Regions from separate parts of the Homo sapiens genome. Here region 1 is linked to region 2. Evidence: fine-mapped expression QTL. A gene starts in region 2. The other region holds a variant in brackets. All regions are shown on one strand. Distances are from middle to middle.

Region 1 (2,500 bases), 300 kb before region 2:
CCATATCTTTGTGCTAATCCAATTAAGGATATTAATATAAATTATTGATACAGAATAAAAATGGCAAAAAGAAATTATAATGATGAAGACTCAGGCTGCTAAGGACTGAACTCTGACCTTTTTTTCTCTTGCCCCAAATCCTTTCTAAGCAGACCCCACAAACCATAAAATCTCATTAAACAGTTTTTTTAAACTAAGCTGGTATAATGCAGCCTATTTTCCAATCTGACTCTAGTGTAGCATCACATGAGAGATGGCAGACACCCCCTGATCTTAAACATCCTTATGTACTGACTTCAAGTCTTTAGACAAAGATTACCTTTCAACCAATTGCCAACTAAAGAATCCCTAAAACCCACCAATGACTTGTAAGCCATGGCTTCGAGATGTACAGAATTTTCAGGCCCAATCACTGTATACCTTCCATGTACTGATTTATGATTTTACCTGCAATTCCCATACTTTCCTGAAATGTACAAAGCCAAACTGTAACCCAGTTGCCTTGGGCACACTTTCTCAGGACCTTTTGAGACTGTGTATCCCCAGACCGAGGTCACGCATATTGACTCAGAATAAACCTCTTTAAATATTTTGACAGAATTTGGTTTTTCTGTCCTCACTGGCACTAAAGAAAAACATTTGTGACAATTTCTTTCCTTTCTTTTTTGATACAGTCTTGCTCTGTTGCCCAGGCTGGATGGAGTGCAGTGGCACAATCTCGACTCCTCCACCTCCCAGGCTCAAGCAATCTTCATGCCTCAGCCTCCTGAGTAGCTGGGATTACAGGTATGTGCCACCCTGCCCAGCTAATGTTTTATGTTTTTAGTGGAGACACGGTTTCACCCCATGTTAGCCAGGCTAGTCTCAAACTCTTGACCTCAAGTTGATCCGCCTGCCTCAGCCTCCCAAAGTGCTGGGATTACAGGTGTGAGCCACCATTCCTGGCCCATCTGGGACAATTTTAAGTGGCTGGCAAGCTCCCTGAGGACAGATAATCCTCTTTTACATCTGTGCTGTTGTTCTGGAATATTGCTG[T/C]GCACAGAAGAGGTACTCAAGAACTATCTGTTGACTGAATTAATTATAATCTTTGTTTCTGACGTCTGTTGACAACACCTTAAAAACCAAACAAAATTGTCATAGTAATAAGATTCATAATTAAAAGCTATTAACCTTAAAATTTTTAAGTAGTGACAGATCTATATTTCTTTAATCATTCCCAAATTTTTAAAATAAATAAGACTTTAATGATTTTTGGATGATTTAGTAAAACCAATATCTAGATATTAATAAAAGCTCAGAATGCCATTTTTTTAAAGCAGTAAGTTTATAAAAGTCCAAAAGTAGGAGGAATTTTGGCAGATCTAAGTTTAAAAAAAGTCATCCTTTCACTGTTGTTATAGTTGTAACAACTTCAGGATGATGAAATTAAAGAGCATGTGGAAACAAAGATTGCAGAATCACCAACCCACATGCCACTTTAGTTTTGTCGATACCAACAATATTGTCCAAAAAGGGAAAGGTGGGGAAAGGGAGTTATTAAATACTCAAAGGCAGAAATAGTTTTCCATATATAACTTTACTTTTTCCTAACATTTAAATACCACTGCATGGCGTTCTCTGTCTCTACAGTATTCTTCCTATTAGTCTGTAGATAAACACAGAATCACCAGCCCACGTGTCCCCTGAGTTTCGTTGATACTGCCCACCCCCACAACATGAGAAAAGCACTAAAAGCTCAAAGACAGAAAAATCGTTTTCCATGGACAATCAATTTTATACTTTCTTAATATTTAAACACCATTTCAAGGTATTTCTTATATTTGTCTATAATATTCTCTGTATTTGTGTTAAATACTTTATTTAAAGAGAAATTTGGAGGCCACCCAAGGTATCTAAATATGAAAACACCTCTGATTTCTTAACATGTTAAAAAACAGAATTCCTGTTTTCTTTTTCCAGCTAAAGTTACAAAATATATGTAAGATATAAAAATACATGCTTTATACTTATTATCTAAATCCTTCTTCCATTCAGAAAAGAACATTTCTGGTAAAAGCAAGAATGACATTTTAATGGAACAATCTGATCCACAACATCACTATAATGTGGCAAGACTGTACCAGAGTGAGAAACAGAACAAGACATCTGTCCAACTCAGCACCCCTAGCACCCATCAAAGTACCAATATATACAACCCAATCATTATTATTTAAAGAATAAACTAATCAACGCATGTATCAATATATGAATTAGTAAATAAAATGGAAAACAAAGGAACAATTTGTGTTTCTCACTAAATAAGAACAAAACAAATTGCTCCATTTTATGTTCTACAAAAAATGTATGTATATTGGGGGTAAGCAGATGAAAATAACAAGCAGAGTACAAATTGGCAGCATTTTAATATATTATTGCCCCTAATTTATAATTCATTTTACTATAACATTATTGTTGAAAAATTTTAAAACAAAGGTAAAGTTAGACTTAATCTCCGTTAGTA
Region 2 (3,031 bases):
AGGTCAGGCAGAAGAACTTAACCTTGGGAGTCCATTAAGAGTGATAAGAGAAGGAAGCCTGGTATTAGCAAGGAAATAAGAGAGAACTGAGAAACCAGATGCCAGGAGACCACCCTTGTTGCAATAATCCGGATGTAAAATGATGAGGGTTTGGATTTAGAATGTTCCAGGGGGAACAGAAAGGAAACAAAGAATTCATGAGACATTTCAAAGGAGGAAATACCAGGTCTTGATGACAGGCTGGAGATGATAATGGGAGAAGTCACACATGATTCCAGTTTTTCTACCTTGGGAAGCCAGCAAAGTGACTTCTTTTTAGATCTCTTTTCTTTGCTCACACACAAATTGACCCCCTCATAGAGTTCAGTTGAAATATCAATTACAAACAGAATTGATCTATTTTTTTTCCCTTAGAAACACAGGTAATCTTATTTGCCTTTAGCTAAACGACCCAAGATGCACCTTGCTGGGCTTTGCTCTTGGATAGCACTCATACCTCTATGACAATGCTCCCCACTTTGGCCTTGTACTGCGTGTGTGGTGTGCAGGTGCGTTTATCACCCACTAAACCAAAAGTCCGTGTTGTGCAGGGACCACGTCTCATGCAGAGTTAAGTATTCAAAAGTTTTTGTTAATTGTTTAAGAAAATGAGATTTACATGAAACAATACTTTAAAAAGCTTTCCAGAAACAACAGCATTAAAACAAAATCACTGAAATTAAAATTTACATAAATTAAAAGGTTCTGTGTTCCACATGCCAAGAAAAGATCTTACACTATTGTAATAGTGGTAGGGTCACACAGTTTTATTCCTCAGCTTAAGTGCTGCAATACAGTAATAATGCAGTACAAGAATACTGTATAATAAACCTTAAACGAAACACTTCATATATACTTTACACAAGTTATTGGATATTGCTTAGTATTTATTTCCCCCACCCCTGCTGTGCAAAGATATTAATATCCCTCTTTTATAGGAGAGGAAACAGGTAAAGAGAAGTTAAGAAACTTGCACAAGGTCATCCAGCTAGTAAATGTTGGAGCTGGGATTTGACAACTTTGTCAAGTCTCCATCCTTAACAGTTCTGCTCTATATTGCATAAGCAGACAGCTCCCTTTTGGGGACTGACAGGTTATTTGAGGCATATGAACCATTTTTGGTGGGGGGGCTTTCCCACCCAGTACTGGAAGTGTCTAGTTATATGGGGCATAACCTTAGGAGCAAGCAGGAAAAGAAGAAATGTATTCCAATAGTGTTCAGAAATATACCAGAGTAAACGAATAACCATCAATAACAGCATTTTACAGCCTACCTAATAACACAGGAATAAAACCCTTTATCTGGAACCTAAATAATACCCCCTCCACTCATTTTATTAAAAGCCTTGCTTTATTTGGAAACTCTTAAAATAAGTGGTCATACGATTAAAAAAAGCAGCGGCGCGCCCCCTCCCCGGCGGCCGGGCGCAGCTGTCCGCGCCTCCCCCGCGCGGCTGCCCGCATTCCAACTCTCTGAGGTCACGGGCCGCCGCCGCCTCCCCGGATCCGCCCGCCCGGCTCAGGGGGAGGGACGCCTGGGCCCGGCCGCCCCGCTGCTCCGGCCGCGCGTCCCGCGTCGGTCCGACGGTCTGTCCGTCCTCCTGCCACCCCCCGCCCCCACGGGGCTTCTTTGTGCGGCGCTCCTCGCCGGCCGGTCCCACCTCCAGGCCTCGCCCCTCGCCGTCGCCACCGCCGGACTCTGCCCAGGGGAATGGTCTGCGAGCCGGGTTTTTGGAGACAGGAAGTGAGGCGTGCGAGCCCCATGAGCGCGCCGCGGCCCGGGCTGGCGTGCGGGTGCGGCTGCGGCGGCCGCGCGGCGGGGCCCCGGGAGGCGGGTCGCTGAGCGGGGCGCGCGGCCCCGAGGATGCGGGAGCGGGAGCGGGAGCAGGTGAGGGCGCGGTCCCCGGCCGGCGGGAGGGGCGGGCGGCTGGCCCGAGCGGTGGGGTGTGTCCACTCGCCCGGACCCCGGAGCGCGCCCGCGGCCCCGGAATCCCGGAGAATGGGGCGCGGCGGCCAGACCCGTAGCGGGAGCGTAACAAAGAGAAAAGTCTTGTTTTTCAGGTTCGCTCTCATATACTTGAGTAATTTCTAAAAGGAGTCTTGAACTTCTATTCCGAACGCCCTGGCCGATTGTTGCGGGTTAATTCTGGATCAGGGTTTTAAATGTGTTAGGCATATTTGTGCCTCTCAGAATATATAAACGTGAAATTCGCCAGATAACTTTGGCGAGAAGGGGCGCAGGGAAGGACTGTTTGGTAACGCCTGGGTTTGTTTTTGGAGTAGAGTATTTACTCTGGAAACAAGAATTCTTGGATCTGCAAATTCCGACTTGTGATTTCTGCAAATCCTGATTAGATTGGCCGCTCTTGGCATGCTCGTCCTATTTTCTTTTTTGCTGAGAAAGCCTTATACTAATAGCGTATGCTCACAAACACATTCAGAACATTCGTGTGCTCCAAGTGACAACTGCTGTATGCCTAATAGTTGCTGACAGTTTATTTATTTTTTTAAGTTTGGGACACGACAGTAATTTTACTCTGAATATAGTCCGTTTCGTTTCTAGGGCATTTTATTCTGGAGCATCTACGCACAGATGTTTTCTCCGTGAGAAACATGGGTTTAATGCTATAGCTATAGATATTACTCTAAAAATGTCACATACTCTCTCCTTTTAGTGCTTATTTTATTTTAAAGCAACTTTGGCAAAATTACATGTGGTAAGGACCTTAATAGGAAAGGGGAAACGCTGTAAGATTGAGAGGTAAAGTGTATTTGAGGAACTTTTGGAAAGGGTTGTAGAGAGGGAAAATTAAAATGAATTCACAAATAGTTCAGACTGCCTTTTGTAAACTTGTACTGAAGCAGAATCTAGTATGTATCTGTTTACTTACCACAAAACGGAAAGATTTTGTAGAGAAAAAATTATATCCTAGTTTTCCTTTAATAGCTATTTATAAATTATGTTTACTTTAGTAAATTATAATTCCAGACC

Which allele goes with the higher level. Alleles are on the strand shown, and positions count from the first base shown. SD is a standard deviation of normalised expression in the study named.
For the expression in tibial artery of the gene that starts at base 1,571 in region 2, C is the low allele of the variant in region 1 and T is the other (moderate effect, 0.51 SD a copy in GTEx).

The links. PIP is the estimated chance that this variant, and not a neighbour inherited with it, causes the effect. A credible set is the group of variants that fine-mapping cannot tell apart.
Region 1: its variant is the best candidate, but not a certain one, in a credible set for the expression of PTPN21 in tibial artery (GTEx, PIP 0.55).

The regions. Positions count from the first base shown.
Region 1 is chr14:88,848,854-88,851,353 of GRCh38, reverse strand. All of the region lies in intron 7 of TTC8 (tetratricopeptide repeat domain 8), which reads right to left. Among named protein-coding and RNA genes, the nearest start is that of TTC8, 25 kb to the right of the region's middle. The variant T/C (reference allele first, on the strand shown) is at 1,036.
Region 2 is chr14:88,553,547-88,556,577 of GRCh38, reverse strand. PTPN21 (protein tyrosine phosphatase non-receptor type 21) reads left to right here and starts at 1,571. Exons shown (of 19, transcript NM_007039.4): 1 at 1,571-1,927. LOC124903405 (proline-rich protein 2-like) reads left to right here. Exons shown (of 2, transcript XM_047432047.1): 2 at 1,518-1,921. The coding sequence ends at 1,882. RefSeq lists a silencer at 1,564-1,613.